2 separate regions of the Homo sapiens genome follow, and region 2 is linked to region 1. A link means that fine-mapping ties the variant in region 1 to the expression of a gene that starts in the linked region. Tissue or cell type: whole blood. Region 1 holds a variant in brackets; the other region holds the start of a gene. Each region is shown on its reference strand, or each on the opposite one. Region 1 overlaps LUC7L (LUC7 like). Region 2 holds the start of MBNL3 (muscleblind like splicing regulator 3).

Region 1 (8,284 bases):
TAGAAATGTGAATATTGTGAAATGTTTTTCCCTTCTACCTTAAGAAGCATTAACTTGGTTAGAAAGCTTGTTTTATCATTGCAGCATAGAGTTGACCAAAACAACACAACTCGTATTACAGACTTTGATAAATAATTATTAAAGTAACAGTGCACAATGTATTTGGAAGTGCACCTCTTAATGATAGGGAGAGTGGGAGTTCTGTGCCCTAGTTAGAGGAGGCCTCACTCACAGTAGTCCCAGAGGTATCCACCTTCCTAGGCCTCCCAGAGTGCTGGGATTACACATGAGCCACTGCACCTGGCTAATCCTTAATTTTTTTAAAAACTGCCATCCTTGAGGCTGGGTGTGGTGGCTCACGCCTGTAATTCCAGTCTTTAGGAGGCCAAGGCAGGAGAATCGATTGAATCCAGGAGTTTGAGACCAGCGTGGGCAACATAAGGAGACCCTGTCTCTACCAAAAATTTAAAAATTAGCCAAGCATGGTGGTGTGTGCCTGTAGGTCCAGCTACTCAGGAGGCTGAGGTAAGAGGATTGTTTGGACCTTGGAGCTCAAGGCTGCAGTGAACTGTGATCACGACACTACACTCCAACCTAGACAACAGAGGATTTTTTTCGTTTTTTTTTTCAGAGACAGGGTCTCCCTCTGGCACCCAGGGTGGAGTGTACTGATGTGATGGTAGCTGATAGCTTATTGTCACTGTAACCTGGAACTCCTGGACTCAAGTGGCCCTGCATCCTGAGTCTCCTGAGTAGCAGAGACTACAGGCATGCACCACCATATCTGGCTCATTTTTTTTTTTTAGGTAGGAGGTCTTACTATGTTTCCCAGGCTGGTCTCAAACTCCTGTCCTCACATGATCCTCCCAGTTCAGCCTCCCAGAGTGCTGAAATGGCATGAGCCACCGTACCTGGCTTAAATGCCATCCTTAAACATCACCTTAAAGGTGTCCATCCATGTGTGCCCTGCTTCAGACACAGGATGAGCATGGGTGAAAGTTTAGAGCTGGAGATACCAGTCACCCAGCTCTGCATACTTTCCGTGCCCTTGTGGGGAGCGTGCTCTCATCCACACTGGGTATGGAAGATTATCCTTATGCCATCGTGGCTCTCTGGATGGAGAAGACTCGTGATTCTTTGTCTTACTGGCTCTGACTTGCTCCCACTCAGGGCTTCACTTGACACAGATGAGGGGCATTAAATGTCTTAGAGTTGATATTGGGAGTAGTGGGTATACAGAACGGTGCCCGGTGCTTTTCCACTCAGCTTGTGTTGACGGTATTTTCATTGGCGAGGTTTCTCATCCCCTTATATTGCTTTCTTCATCAAGCCTGATGATTCACATCATCCTGTGTTGAAAGCCAGTTGCAGAGGATTTGTGGTCCACCTCCCCTGGCCTGCTGTCCTCCAACTCAGTTTGTTCTAAAGCCAGCGTAGCACCCAGCACCCTGAGGTTGGGCTGCTTTTTGGCTGTAGGGATTCTGCTCCCAGTAGCAAGATGTGTTTGATGAGATACATCCGTCCTTTTTTACCATAAAGTTTGTACAGTCTCCTACCTATCTGGGTTGGTTTGAAACAATGTGATCAATTCCCTGTGAGTTAGAAGTATAGCACCACTTAGAATAGACAGTTTGTTACCACATTGTTAAAATCTAATGATAGGCTGGGTGGTTCAGGCCTGTAACCCCAGCACTTTGGGAGGCCAAGGCAGGAGGATTGCTTGAGTTGAGGAGTTCAAGCTCAGCCTGGGCAACATAGCAAGATTCCATCTCCATAAAAAATGTTTAAAGATTAGTCTGCCATGGTGGCACACGCCTATAGTCCCAGCTACTCAGGAGGCGGAGCTAAAGAGGCTTGCTTGAGCCTGGGAGGTCAAGGCTCCGGTGAGCTGTGATTGCGCCACTGCACTCCATCCAGCCTGGGTGGACAGAGCAAGACCCTGTTTCAAAAAAAAAAAAGTGGCCAAGCGCGGTGGCTCATGCCTATAATCCCAGCACTGTGGGAGGCCGAGGCGGGCGGATCGTGAGGTCAGGAGATCGAGACCATCCTGGCTAACATGGTGAAACTCTGTCTCTACTAAAAATACAAAAAATTAGCCGGGCGCAGTGCCGGGCGCCTGTAATCCCAGCTACTCCGGAGGCCAGGACAGGAGAATGGCGTGAACCCGGGAGGCGGAGCTTGCGGCGAGCCGAGATTGCGCCACTGCACTCCAGCCTGGGTGACAGAGCGAGACTCCGTCTCAAAAAAAAAAAAAAAGTAAATGTAAACGAGGCCGGGTGCAGTGCCTCACGCCTGTAATTGCTGCACTTTGGGAGGCCGAGGCAGGCATATCACAAGGTTAGGAGTTTGCGACAAGCCAGACCAACATGGTGAAACCCCGTCTCTACTAAACATACAAAAATTAGCCGGCCGTGCTGGCACGCTTGTAATCCCAGCTACTCAGGAGGCTGAGGCAGAAGAATCGCTTGAACCCAGGAGGCAGAGGCTTCAGTGAGCAAAGATCGCGCCACTGCACTGGGCAACAGGGCGGACTCTGTCTCAGGAAAAAAAAATGTAATGATAAAGCATTTTTTCATGTGTTATCTTCTTCATTAAGAAGTTTTAAAAATGAATGTGTTGGCCGGGCGCGGTGGCTCATGCCTGTAATCCCAGCACTTTGGGAGGCTGAGGCAGGCGGGTCACAAGGTCAAGAGATCAAGACCATCCTGGCCAACATGGTGAAACCCCATCTCTACTAAAAATACAAAAATTAGTTGGGTGTGGTGGCATGTGCCTGTAATCCCAGCTACTTGGGAGGCCGAGGCAGAAGAATAGGTTGAACTCGAGGTGGAAGTTGCAGTGAGCCGAGATCACGCCACTGCACTCCAGCCTGGTGACAGTGAGACACCGTTTCAAAGAGAAAAAAAAAAGTATTCCCATTTCCTAAAAGTGTCCCTTCAATTTTTAAATTACCAATACTGAGCTCATATAAAGGTGATTTGTTAAGTAGCATTCACACTCTGGTTTGTGTAACTTGCTCTTCCTCATTTTTTGTTTCATTTATTTAGAAAACTGTCGCTGAAAAGCAGGAGAAGAGAAATCAGGATCGCTTGAGGAGGAGAGAGGAGAGGGAACGGGAGGAGCGTCTGAGCAGGAGGTGAGCCTGAGGGCTGGCACTGGATGGCCTGCATTGGCCTCGGGCATTCCCTGCTCGGTCCATTCCACTGTTGCTTGGAATAGGCAGGGCCTGCCCAATAGGCCGTTATAAAAGAAAATAGTAAGGCCAGGCCTGGCGGCTCACGCCTGTAATCCTGTCAGTTTGGGAGGCTGAGGCGGGCAGAACACTTGAGGTCAGGGGTTCGAGACCAGCCTGGCCAACATGGTGAAACCTTGTCTCTACTAAAAATACAGAAATTAGCTGGGCGTGCTGGCATGAGCCTGTAATCCTAGCTACTCGGAGGCTGAGGTGGGAGAATCACTTGAGCCCGGGAGGCAGAGGTTGCAGTGAGCCGAGATCGTGCCACTGCACTCTAGCCTGGGCAACAGAGACTCCATCTCAACCAAAAAAAAAAAAAAAAAAAGTAAACAGCATATTCAGTCCAACAAAACAAAACAAAACACGTCCCAGCGCAGGACTGTGTGTGCATGGCAGTCAGGTAAGGGATCCAAGCTGTTGGAGGCTGTGTGTGGGCACTGCTGTTTACTTACTGAGTGCTATGGGGCCATTGGACACCTGTTTACGCAGGAGGGGTGGTGCCTGCTCCCCTTTGGCAAGCGTGCTGGGCTGGAGTAGAAGCAGCAGGACCTTGGGGAGCTAGGTGGGAAAATCCAGATGGAGGAGGTGGCAGTTTAAGCCAGGTAAGGGGTGCAAGGAGTCGGGGAAAGTTCTGGGATAGAACTGATGGGATTTGCTGGTAGTGTGTGAAGCGTGCAGAGGAGGAAATGAAGCTGGTCTCCTGGTTTCTGGCCCGGAGTTGCTGCTTGGTGAGGTTGGAAGGCTGGGTGTGGTGTATTGGAGTGGGAGGAGGTGGGAAGTAGAAGATGCCTCTGGCCACACTCAGCTTGAGAGGCCATCTTGAGGTGGGGCTGTTGAGTCTGTTTGGAGTTCAAAGAGGTAGGAGCCAGAAGTATCCACATCCTCCTGGAGACAGCTCATTGTCCAGGAAGGTTCCCAAACCACTTTTCCTGAAATAATTCCTCAGTGCATAACTCAGGGCGAATGTTTATTGTGTTTGTTTTTGAGACAGGGTCTCGCTCTGTCACCAGGCTGGAGTGCAGTGGTGCGATATCGGCTCACTGCAGCCTCCACCCCCTGGGTTCAAGCGAGTCTCCTGCCTCTGCCTCCCAAGTAGCTGGGACTACAGGCCTGTGCCATCACGCCCAGCTAATTTTTGTATTTTTAATAGAGACAGGGTTTCACCATGTTGGCCAGGCTGGTCTCGATCTGTTGACCTCATGATCTGCCTGCCTCAGCCTCCCAGAGTGCTGGGATTACAAGCGTGAGCCACCACGCCCGGCCGTTTGTTGTTTTACCAGCAGGAGATTCTGATTGGAGAGAAACTTAAACAGTATAGAAGAAAATATTAAGCAAAACACACAATCCATTTTTTGCATGGAGTTTACATTTTTACATGCACTGTCATGTTTAGGCCATTTGTGTTGCGGATGTACATGGGGCCACTTGACCTTAATGGCTTACGGGCATAGAATGAGGCCTCATAGCTTGCCTTTTTCAGCCTCTTGGTTGTGTGGCAGAATGAGCTGATGACTCTCACCTGACAGGAAGCCTGTGCCTGGAACTTCGGGCTTTGCTTTTCCTTTTCTGTGTTTTTGGTGTGCCCCACTCGCTGTCTGCACATTCTGTGCTGGTGTCTGTTGTAAAGACTGGAGAATCATTTGTAGGACTTGAGTGCAGCACAGTCAGTGTGCACAGACTTTTCACGGCCCTTGTAATGTTACAGGGCTGCGTCTGATGCTCGGATGTGGGCCTGTCTGTGAGGCTCAGGTGACACTGAGTGTGCCACAGAGTGGCTGTGGGGATGGGAGCATTGGCACTTCCCATTCAGACTGGGAACATGCAGGCAGCTTGAAAACAGCAGGTCTTTGGGGGAGGTGCCTCACTTCTTAAATTTGGAGTCCTCCCCCAAGAGGGTGAGGAATAGGGGTGCTTTCGGGAAGTCATTCACT[T/C]TTTTTTTTTCTTTTTGAGACAAAGTTTTATTCTTGTTGCCCAGGCTGGAGTGCAGTGGCACAATCTCAGCTCACTGCAACCTCTGCCTCCTAGGTTAAAGTGATTTTCCTGCCTCAGTCTCCTGAGTAGCTGGGATTACAGGCACCCGCCACCACGCCTGGCCAGGTTTTGTGTTCTCAGTAGAGACGGGGTTTCACCACGTTGTCCAGGCTGGTCTCCAGCTCGTGACCTCAGGTGATTGCCTGCCTAGGCCTCCCCGAAGTGCTGGGATTACAGGTGTGAGCCACCATGCCTGGCCTTGTTCATCTTTTTTTCCCCCTTTTAGGTCGGGATCAAGAACCAGAGATCGCAGGAGGTAGGTTTCCAGGTCCATTAAAATGTTCTCAAATTTTTTTTTCCATAAGCATTTTTCTTAATATTTAATGATTATGCCTTTACAAATGTTACCTGGCAGGTAGGGCTGGCTTGTGAAGGGCACAGGGCAAGAGGTTGCTTGGTGCCGTGGAGGGTTCCCAGTGTTAATGAGAGGGAAGGTCGGGGCCTGCAGGGTGACAGGAGTATCCAGGCCACATGTTTTCAGGAGACCTCATTGGAAGGACCTAGCCATTGGAGATTAACTGATGGAAATATTTTAAACCTAAATTTGTGGGAGTAAAGGAGAAAATGTCAGTAAAGCAGCAAGCAGAATCTGCTGAGGGGTGGGGCCCTCATAGTGTTGGCACCTATAGAGTCTCAGCCTTGGAGCCTTCTGATTGTTCAGGTCACGCTCCCGGGATCGGCGTCGGAGGCGGTCAAGATCTACCTCCCGAGAGCGACGGAAATTGTCCCGGTCCCGGTCCCGAGATAGACATCGGCGCCACCGCAGCCGTTCCCGGAGCCACAGCCGGGGACATCGTCGGGCTTCCCGGGACCGAAGTGCGAAATACAAGTAACTACTCTGACTCCTTCGGTAGCTGCAACCAGGAGTGAGCCCTTCTCTGTGTTCCCAGGGTCTGCTGAGGGCCGTGTCTGGTGGGGATGGGGCTGGGCTCACCCTCAGGAGTAGGGCTGGGGAGTCGTGAACGGGACTCAGGTGTGGGAAGAGGCGAGAGGGCTGTGGAGGAGCTCGCACGGCGCCAGGTGATGGGCTGCACAGGCACTGTCCCCTGCCTGCGTCCTGGGGCCTGTGCACTGTTGCGTCCATGCTCAGAGTGGCTGAGACTTGTGTCCTGACCAGGCCCTGCTTACCTCTGTTTTGGTTTTTGTTTTTGATATTTTTTTTTCCATTGTGTTTTTACGTAGTGTCATGTTCTGTGCATATAGTGTTGTATTCTCCTTTGCACTGTTTATGTTACAGTGAAGGCTCTCCTTATTAAAAATCTTCGCAAAGGTCACTTTTTAATGGCTATCTAACACTCCATATGTGGTGGGCAAGTCTGGTTGGCCTCCGGGGGGTTTCCAGGTATAGGGGATGTAGGGCCTTGCCTGGCCTGGTCTGCGGGTCCATCGTCAGTGCCTGAGCGGCCAGCAGAAGGGGGGCAGCAGCCTCCACTGAGCCTCTGGTTCCCATTTCCCAGGTTCTCCAGAGAGCGGGCATCCAGAGAGGAGTCCTGGGAGAGCGGGCGGAGCGAGCGAGGGCCCCCGGACTGGAGGCTTGAGAGCTCCAACGGGAAGATGGCTTCACGGAGGTCAGAAGAGAAGGAGGCCGGCGAGATCTGAACCCGTCTCCCGGGTGCTGTAAATAGTCTGATAAACGTTCACACAGTCTAAAATTACCCTTTATATTTGCTGAATACAACTCATCTTTTGTAGTTTAAAATTTCTATTGTTTTGGAGCTAGCTGTGAGTTTCTAGAAGTGTACAGAGTTGCTCCTGTGTTCCCGGGTCATGTTGAGTAGGAATAAATAAATCTGATGCTGCCTCCTGAGGCTGCGGGGGGTTTCTGCTGTCCTCTGCGTAGAGGCTTTTCACTGTGACCCTGTGCCAGTGCCACCAGCACCTCACAGAAACCGTGACTTACTCGTGGGTCACGTCTTGTCTTCTGGCATCCAGTAGATGGCAGGGCACTTCCTGTCCCCTGCATCTGACTGACGGGACCCAGGTGTGCATGGGTGTTTGTTTGCTCGCTCCCACACAACCTTCTGAGTGTCTGAGCTGCCCATCTCCCATGGGGAGGAGGGAGGGGTCCCCATTCTGCATTCATTTATTTAGGAAAAGCTGTCTTGTCTGCTCAGCTGCTACCATAGCCTTAACTTGGGACTCAGGTGAGTTACACTGCATGTCCCCTTTTGAAGTTACTAGCAGAAAACAAAGACCCATGGGGCTGGGCATGGTGACACATGCCTGTAGTCCCAGCTACTACTAAGAAGGCTGAGGCAGGAGGATCTGTTGAGCACAGGACACTGAGGCAAACCTTGATTCCGCCACTGCACTCCAGCCTGGGTGACAAGAAAGCCCTATCTCAAAAAAAAAAAAAAAAAAAAAAAAAAAAAAAATGGTTTGACTCATGTCCCATGTGGGCTGATTATGTTTCCCACCTCTCAGTTCGTTCTTTTTTTTTTTTTTTTGAGACGGAATCTCACTCTGTCGCCCAGGCTGGAGTGCAGTGGCGTGATCTCAGCTCACCGCAACTTCCGCCTCCCAGGTTCACGCCATTCTCCTGCCTCAGCCTCCAGAGTAGCTGGGACTACAGGTGCCTGCCACCTTGCCTGGCTAATTTTTTGTATTTTTAGTAGAAACGGGGTTTCACCTTGTTAGCCAGGATGGTCTCGATCTCCTGACCTCGGGATCTGCCCGCCTCGGCCTCCCAAAGTGCTAGGATTACAGGCGTGAGCCACCGCTCCTGGCCAACACCTTTCAGTTCTTTCTAACATACCTGCTGTACATCAGGCAGGTACTTTAAGACCAAAGTAAAGGGGGACGCGGTGGCTCACGCTTGTAATCCCAGCACTTTGGGAGGCAGATAACCTGAGGTCAGGAGTTCGAGACCAGCCTGGCCAACATGGTGAAACCCTGTCTCTACCAATATACAAAAATTAGCTGGGTGTGGTGGCGGACACCTGTAATCACAGCTACTTGGGAGGCTGAGACAGGAGAATCGTTTGAACCCGGGAGCCAGAGGTTGCAGTGAACCGAGAT
Region 2 (8,333 bases), not on the chromosome of region 1:
AGTAGTTAAAACATGAGCCCTGTCATCAGAGAAAAATAGTGTAGAATCCTAGTTCTGCTACCTAATAACTTTTTTACTTTTAGCAAGCCTCAGTTTTCCTGTTTTTATGGGGACATAAAAATAATTACAAGGATTGTTATGAGAATTAAATGAGTTAATTTGTGAAAAATACTTAGTACAGTGCCTAGAGTAGTTCTACATTAAATGGTTACTGTTACAATTATCGTATTTCTAAGTGAGAATAGGGCTTACTTTTCTTTTTTATATCATGCTTCCATTTTTAAATTGTTCTTACCTTTTTGTATCATTTTATCTGTATCATTCTTAGCACATTTCCCTCTGAGGGCAATTTTAAGAAATATACTATACTTTTCAATAATCAAGGATAATTTGTATAATATGTTCTTAAAAGGCTTGGAAGAGAATTCACCTTGTAAATCCATCAGGCCCAGGTGTGCTTTGAAGGATTTTTTAAAAAAAATTTGTCCTGTTTTCTTCTGTATTTATTAGAATATGTCCAAATAATTCTGACAATTTTGTCCATGTGAAAAAAAAACACTGAGTTCCAGAAATTTTCTTTGCAACCTGAGAGTTATTGATCAATTTATTATCTATGCTTGCAATTTGTTTCTGCATTCAACTAGTTACTAAATTGCCTTATAGTTTCTTCTGTAAGAATACAGTCTGTAACATTTTACAGAGGGGTTACCTTGGAAGCCAACATTTACTTGATTGTTTAAACCCTTTTAACAACCAGATTCTGCTTTCTTCCTGTTTATTTAGTAGGAACCTCTGTGTTGAACCCCAAAGTCCAAATTCCCAACTCTGAATGAAAAAGACTCTTCAGGAATGAATGAATAATCAGTGTCTTTAGCTCTTGAACCACCCTTAAATGGCCAGAGGCTTCTGTATGGAATGACCACAAATACTGCTGTGGGGCTGGAGCCTGTGGAGCCATCGCTAGAACACAGCAGTAGCAAATAATACTCTTGTTGATAGGCTAGTGAGAATAATTCCACAAGTTCAAAACAGAAAAACATGTTTCACCTTTTGTCCATAGCACGGCCTTGCCTGAATGTCCAATAGCACACGTTGACTGTCTGTTTCAAAGAATAATAAATGAGTTATGTGGCTTAGCAGAGGAGTGAAAGGATAATTCTGATCGAATATGTTGAAAGTTCAAAAACTTCTCAAGACCCTGGTTCACTCATATATGCGTGAGTTTAACTTTTCACCTATGCGACATCTTTAAAAATACAGCAACATTTGTTTGGTGGTGGAGTACAATAATCGTTTCGTTATTAAACCATCACATAACTTTTAGAATTCTTTCCTACATCAAAGTTAATTATATTTATTGGAAGAACATGCTACTTGAGAGGTTACTACATCCTTACCCAGAATCCTAGCCTTACATTTGTGTAAGTGTCCATCTCAAGCGTTAAGACATAGAGCAGAAAAAGCATATCCCCTAGGTTTGTTGAAATGTTTGCTTACACACCTGCATTTGACTGAGTAGGAGAGAAGGACGGGACTTTCTTCTTCTTCTTCTCCTTCTCCTTCTTCCCTTCTTCTTCTTCTTCTTCTTCTTATTATTATTATTACTATTATTATTATTATTATTTGAGACAGAGTCTCACTCTGTTGCCCAAGCTGGAGTGCAGTGGCACGATCTCAGGCTCAAGTGATCCTCCTGCCTCAGCCTCCTGAGTAGCTGGGACTACAGGTGCGTGCCACCATGCCCAGCTAATTTTTGTATTTTTAGTAGAGACGGGGTTTCACCATGTTGGCGAGGCTGGTCTGGAACTCCTGACCTCAAGTGATCCACCTACCTTGGTCTCCCAAAGTGCTGGGATTACAGGTGTGAGCCACTCCACCCAGCCAGGGACTTAATTTTTCAATCCGAGTTGCAAGACACTGACTTTTGAAGATCCATCAGGATAGTGGTTGTCAGGTGATCTCAAAACGCAATGGGGGAACAGGCATATGTATTCTGAGACTATAATGTACATACATTATTGTAAGAATTCATCTTGCATATCAGTCAGTACACGACCCTATTTTTCCTGGGTCATGCCACCAATTATGCCTAAAGAGAAGAACAGAAGAGAAAATGTTGGCTAGCTCTAACTACTCTACTAAAATGGAAAGAAAGTAATTCCAAGGTAAGTCCACCCCAGAGAGCAAATGGGCCTTTTTAAAATGCTGAGGGGAGGGAATAGCAATTTCTTAGTGCCTTTGACAACATTCCCCAGTGGCCTGGTGGCATGGAAATTTGCCTAGCTTCATTTGTGGAGGTCATGCCACCCTGGATAAAAGGAAGGCAGTTTACCAGGCTAAACTTTGTTTATAAGGTTTCTTTCCCCTCCAGTGTGGGAAAGAGAGAATAATAAAGTCTCATTTGCAATTTTCACTGGCCAGAAATTAAAAGCAGGAGACAATGTTGAAGCTATAGTATCCCAAAAAATAGCAAATTGACCTATTTATGCCTTAAATTTAAGACAAAACAATTATTTCAGCAGTTCAATAAGATTGAGCCAGTTTTTGTGTTATTAGCAAAACCCCGAATGTCCCACAGATGTGGCTCGCAATGGTGGACAGAGGTAAGAGAGCTGGTGTTGACCCAAGCTATGTTTAATATAAAGACTCCTTTGTTGACTCACTGTGATAACAGTTCCTCATTTGTTAGAGCATTGGGTATAAAGTTATGTAACTCACCCATGCCCTTCTCTCTAGCTGACTGTGATAGCCAACACTGCCTACTTTTTGCTGTGGTAGATCTTGGGACTGCCAAAGCCACTTCCTGTATGTCAGACACATTTGACTTTTACAGCAGTTCAGGCAATTCGGCAAATTTGAAGGAAGGTGGGAAGAGGTGGTTAGGAATTAGAGTCTTTTCCCCCTTTTCTCAAATAACTAGCAACTCCTACTCTCTTGACTTATGCTATGTTTCTACCCAGTATAACAAAGTATCGGACACCATCCCTGCGCATTGTCCCAATGACTTTCACGATACTTGCCAAAACCATCGGGGGTTTTCTCAATTATTTGAAGGGCAGTTTGTACCCAGTCTTGTCCTCCCAGCCATTACCATCCTACTCTATTATCTTGCACTTAACAAACAGATTGATTTCTTGCCTAAAATTAGCTGGAGAATTCTATTTGGATCAGTCCATCAGAATTAAAAAGTATAATTAGCCTGAGAATTCACTCCACTTTTCAACCTAACTGCTGCTTAAATATCTCCTGCAATGTTTTGCACTTTGTGCAGAGCATGTAGAACTCTGTCTCTGGGTGAAGTAGCTGATTACAGGAAAGCAGCCATGAATTGCTATGAGCTTGTCACTGACGATCCTGCATATGTGTGCGTTATCAACTACAATTGTCTTCGTAAAATTAAATAAAAGCACGCATTTATTATTGTGGGGCTCCAATTAAGGGACAGCTGGTGCTCCTATTACACTTGCATTAAATCGAAACTTGTAATTTCCCTGTGCAGATGCACACTTTTTAATCAAGATATAAAATTGCATTTGCTTTGTCCATTTTCCAAAGTATCTGGAACCTTACCTCAGGGTTCCTCTTATCCTGCAAACTCCGTGGAAGAAGGGGAACAGATTGCACTGATCAGCATTTCCCTGTCTGAAATTCTTAGAGGGAAATAAACGATTGGGGCATTTATGAAAGATAAAACCCCCAAGAAGGCAGCTGGTGAGTATGAATGTATTTATTTAGCCTGTAGCGAGTGGACTTATTCATCGACTAAGATCAATTTTGAAAGGACCCATTTCGCCTCACCTGTCTGGGAAGTGTCTATGAGCGTCCCGCTGTGAACCACACTGCCTTTCTCACTGGCACTTCAGTTCCTGAAGAGCCAGAAACTTTGCACCCCTACCCCAACCCCGCCTCTGGGGATGTGTGCCTGCTTCGTTTGTTTTCGCTTTTGTAAAATCTGAGCGTTATGATTTGTCCCCCTTTCCCTTCCTAATGAAATGACAAAGGGTCTGTGCAGCGGGGGCTGGGCTGCTGGGTTTGGGGGCGAGGCGCCACACCCCCTGAGAATAAAGCCCGCGCTGCGCTCTCGGAGAACCAGGCACGAGTGAGCGAACCACACAAAGAATATATTTCGCGACGAAACAGCGCCCTACAGGAAGAAAGTGCCCGCACTCCGAGCGTGAGCCGCAGCGCGACTTTTTGGCGCTCTTTGGGAGCAGTGAGAGAGAGGCGGAGGCCAGAGAGTCCGGGGTGGGCGCGGGAGCCGGGGCGGCCCTTGGCCGCATTCCCGCCCGTCCCGCAGCGGCGCGCGGAGCCAGGTGAGGTTGGCGGCGGCGCCGCGCTACCTGGCCGGGCGGGGCGGGGCCGGGCGGCCGCGTGCGCCGCTTCCGAGTCCGGCGCTCCGGATGCCCGCCCGCGCTCCGCTGGCCCGCGGAGTTTCGCGGGAGTTTCCGTTTTGGCGCCTAAAGCCCCTCGCTGGCGCCGTTTCCCTCCGCGTGCCGCGTCTGTCCGGCGCGGGACGCACGGAGGCGCGGCCCCAGCCCGGGCTGCCTGGGGTCGGCGGGGCTGCGCGAGGGGACGTCTGGCGTCCGGCGGAGGGCACTGGCCCGGGAGGAGGGCACGCCTTTGGCAAAGGCCGGGCGGGGTTGGGACCGGGGTTGCTATGGTAGCTGCGAGCCCGGGCGGGAGCCCCACGCCCGGCCTCCGCGAGGGAGCTGGGGCGCTCCGAGGTGTGCTCCGAGTGGACTGAACCAAGAGCCTGGGAGGAGCGGGTAGGGCCGGCCCGTGGCCTTGTCCCCTCCTCCCACAGCCCGCCGGCCGGCCCCGGGAAGGGGCCTCGAGGAGCCCAGAAAAGAAAGTATTCTGGCCCCTGGAACCGAAAGGAGTCTTGCAAAAAGCACGAAGGGGTCAAGGGGGCCGAAGGGAGAGGGGGAACCGTCGCCTCCGTCCGAGAGTCAGCGTGCGCGTGTCTGTAGACTTGACATTTTATACCCCAGAGCGGCCGACTTGGAGCCGGGTTGCAAGTCCCAGCCCTGAAGTTCTGGAGGTGGGGCGGGCTTTAATTTGCTTATATCTAATGATTTCAGGAACCTCGCTTTAAAATGGCGGCATTCAGTATGCACCCCTGCTAAAGGCTCTCCCGGCACCGGGGCCACCTCGCGCAGCGCTGCTTTTGCTTCTGCCGCTAACAGATGGCATGTGCCGCTGTCGCTGCCGCTGCCCCTGCTGCTGCCGCTGAGAGCAGGGCCCCTTAGCCTCTGGGTTTGCGCTAGCAGCGTAAGGTAAGGCTGGAGATGAATTGGGATTTGTAAGAGAGGCTGCCTTCCTCGGACGCCGAGGAAATAATGCCTTTTAAACTTCATTTTACAAAATAGCAAATAGGAGGAAAAGTCATCCTGCAACTTTGTTGCGATTTTAGAGCTTTGATCATTTTCCTCCTCCTTTCCTCCTCCTCCTTTTTCTTCTTCCTTCTCTTCCTCCTCTTCTCTTCCTCCTCCCCTTCCTTCCTTCTTTCTTTTTTTCTACTTTCTTCTTTTTAATTTAAAGGAACTTCTTGCATGGCATATAATCAGCAAATGCTTTTTAACAACGAATTTCCCCATTTTCACGCGATATCGTGAGCAGTGCCACAGCTTCCTTGCAGAACCTTGTCTCTTCCTGCCCTGAGTCAACACGTTTGGGCAGCTCGCTTTTACTACTGGGGTTTGAAGGGCATGAGAGTAGATTTTAGGAGACTATTAAAAAGGGAACTTTAGTTTTTAACACTCACACAATAAGCTTTTATGGTAAGAAAACGAAATTAAACCCAGACGAGTAATGAAAGTTGACATTTAAGTGATTCTTTGTTGTGGTTTCATAATTAGGGTAATAGACCTACTGTGTGTTTTTCTGAGCACTCTTAGATAGCTAGCTAGCTAGCTAGCTAGCTAGATGATAGATAAAACAGATAAATTAATTGTGGCTCTAATTAAAGTAATATGTTTTAAAGGAGTTATTTTCTCCTAGATGTTCTTACATCGTTTGTAAATTGAGCTGGGATCCCCACAGCCTCTCCGTATTTGTGGGTAGACTTCATGGGAAAGAATCAATTAAAACAAAACTTGCAAGATTTAATTTTGAAGTGATTGGTACTTTTTTTATTAAGCGGACTCCCTGCTTTAGTGAATAAACGTTTGGGTGATTACTGATATAATGTTTGGAAAACAGATTGTTGGTATGTGGGAATGACTAAACATCCATGCTTGATACAATTTATCTGAATTTTGTTTTGTTTTGTTTCCCCCTCCAGTGAAAGGTAAATAGACAATGAGGCTTATCAGACACCTTGGATTTTTCCTGATTATATTTCCATCTTCTCCTTGGCCCATGAAAATCTAATCCTGAATGTTTAACTACTTTTTAAAATAATTTTTAACTTTTTTCTAATGTGCGATACTTTTGGGGGATGCTTTCATATTTACCAACACTTCTTCAAATATAGACTAAAATGGGCTTCTGCCCACAGCTCAGCTGATAATATTCTATCGCTGTTCACTCCTTCTCCCAAAGCAGTAGAAACTACTTGGTTGGCAGACGCTCTGCTACTAAATTTAGCAAGTGTGTGGAAAGGGAGAAAAATATTGTTTTGCCCTTATTAAAGCATGGTGCAGTTTTCTGCCCAGGTGCTGTAGTCTACCTAGAAACAAACAACCAAACTGTTTACAATGGAATTACTATACAACAAATTTTCAGCAGTTTTTCATATTATTCTTGAAAGAAGTATGTGGGGCAATTCATTGCTTCATGTCTAAAATGAGAGTTCCTGCAGGTAGAGCAATAAACACTTGCATTTTGGTAAAGGGAGGATGAGAAAAAGCAACTTCTCCCATTTTTAGTGATTATGGACTTAGATCCCAGTTCAGTACTGTTTGCTTCCGGATGTGCTACCTTGCTGCTAAAAGACTTCGGACCAAATGCATCCTTAAAAAAAAAGAAAAAAAGAAAGAAAGAAAAGTGAAAATACTAAACCTTGAGGCCAGAATAGACAAGCTAAACTGGTGTCAGAGAAATTAGGAAATTTTGCCAGTTAACATTCTGCTGCCTCATACAGTGATGAGATTGGAGACCTTATATGAAAACATAAGTGAAGGAGTTTGTAAAAAAAAAATGTTTTGAGAGATAATTGATATAGTGCTGGGCTAGAGGTGGTGACTGCATGTTTTGCTCTACTTCTAAGAGCTACTTCATTTCTCTAATTTCCTTTGCTACTTTAAGCAATCGTAATGACTCCCAGGACTATTATAAAGTACCTTTTTTTTCCTCAACTGTCCACTTCAGGCATTTCACAACAGCTGCTTTTTATGATTATGAGCTGGTAGCAAAGGACCTTTGGTATTCTCTTGCACCACCCTCTACCTAGATAATGCTTTGCACAAACTAGGTGCTTAATAAATGTTACATTAAAAAGAAGAATAGCTTATAAACTCACAGTGGAATAGATTTTGGGTACAGCTTTTAATTTAAACGGAAGGCATTTTTATGCACTCACAAGAACCTAAACATTCAAAGAAGAGTAGAATGTACATTCCCCTAGTTGTCTGCATTGTATTTGCTTCTAAAGGGTTCTCTTGCCTCTCATTGTACTTCCAGGCACTTGTATACTTCATGCTTTTGACCAGTAGGTGTATTATTATCTCTCCAGCTTCACTGTGATACTTCCCAGTATCACAGCAGCTTGGGAATAAAAAAGGTTTTGTCTTTTGAGTGATTGTATAGTACCACACATGCTGGAACAGTGACAGTCTCTTGACTGTTGTGCAGATGTTGACAGTATAGTTTAGTACAGTTTTGTTCTCCACCCAGCTGCCTTTATGTGTGAGGGACGAGGGGAGGGAATGGAGTGAGAAGCTCTAAAATGATGAAGATTTCTATTGATAACATTTTACTTTTATTCTGCTTATAGTACAATAAATTCAGGAAGGTGGCAGAATTTTTCTGTTTTCAAATAAATAATGTTGCCTGATAGGCTTACAAACAGGGATTGGGGCATAGCTGACAGTACATAAGTTATAGTACATTTTTGACAAGTAATTTCATCCTGTAATTAAAGTTAGATAATGGTCACTGCCATGTTAACATTATCAAGTGTCTGTAAGAGCATGAAGGCTACACTCACCTTTACTTCATCAAGGTTCTTCCATGCTGGTGAGTTTTCTTATGACATTGTCTACTAGGCAAAACAGATGGATTTTTCCTCATTCAAATGTATGTGATATCAAGAAAATAGAAATCAGAAGTTGTGTTTGTGGGATTTTTCTGCCTTTCTCTAGGTGTGATATAGCTCTCACTTCAAATATAGA

Evidence for each region. PIP is the estimated chance that this variant, and not a neighbour inherited with it, causes the effect. A credible set is the group of variants that fine-mapping cannot tell apart.
Region 2: MBNL3 starts here. The variant in region 1 is the best candidate, but not a certain one, in a credible set for the expression of MBNL3 in whole blood (TOPMed, PIP 0.71).

The regions. Positions count from the first base shown.
Region 1 is chr16:187,779-196,062 of GRCh38, reverse strand. LUC7L (LUC7 like) reads left to right here. Exons shown (of 10, transcript NM_201412.3): 7 at 3,048-3,136; 8 at 5,493-5,522; 9 at 5,928-6,095; 10 at 6,724-7,073. The coding sequence ends at 6,865. Among named protein-coding and RNA genes, the nearest start is that of HBQ1, 11 kb to the right of the region's middle. The variant T/C (reference allele first, on the strand shown) is at 5,167.
Region 2 is chrX:132,485,794-132,494,126 of GRCh38, reverse strand. It overlaps MBNL3 (muscleblind like splicing regulator 3), which reads left to right and starts at 5,089. Exons shown (of 9, transcript NM_001386889.1): 1 at 5,089-5,276. RefSeq lists an enhancer at 1,096-2,295 and a silencer at 4,241-4,810.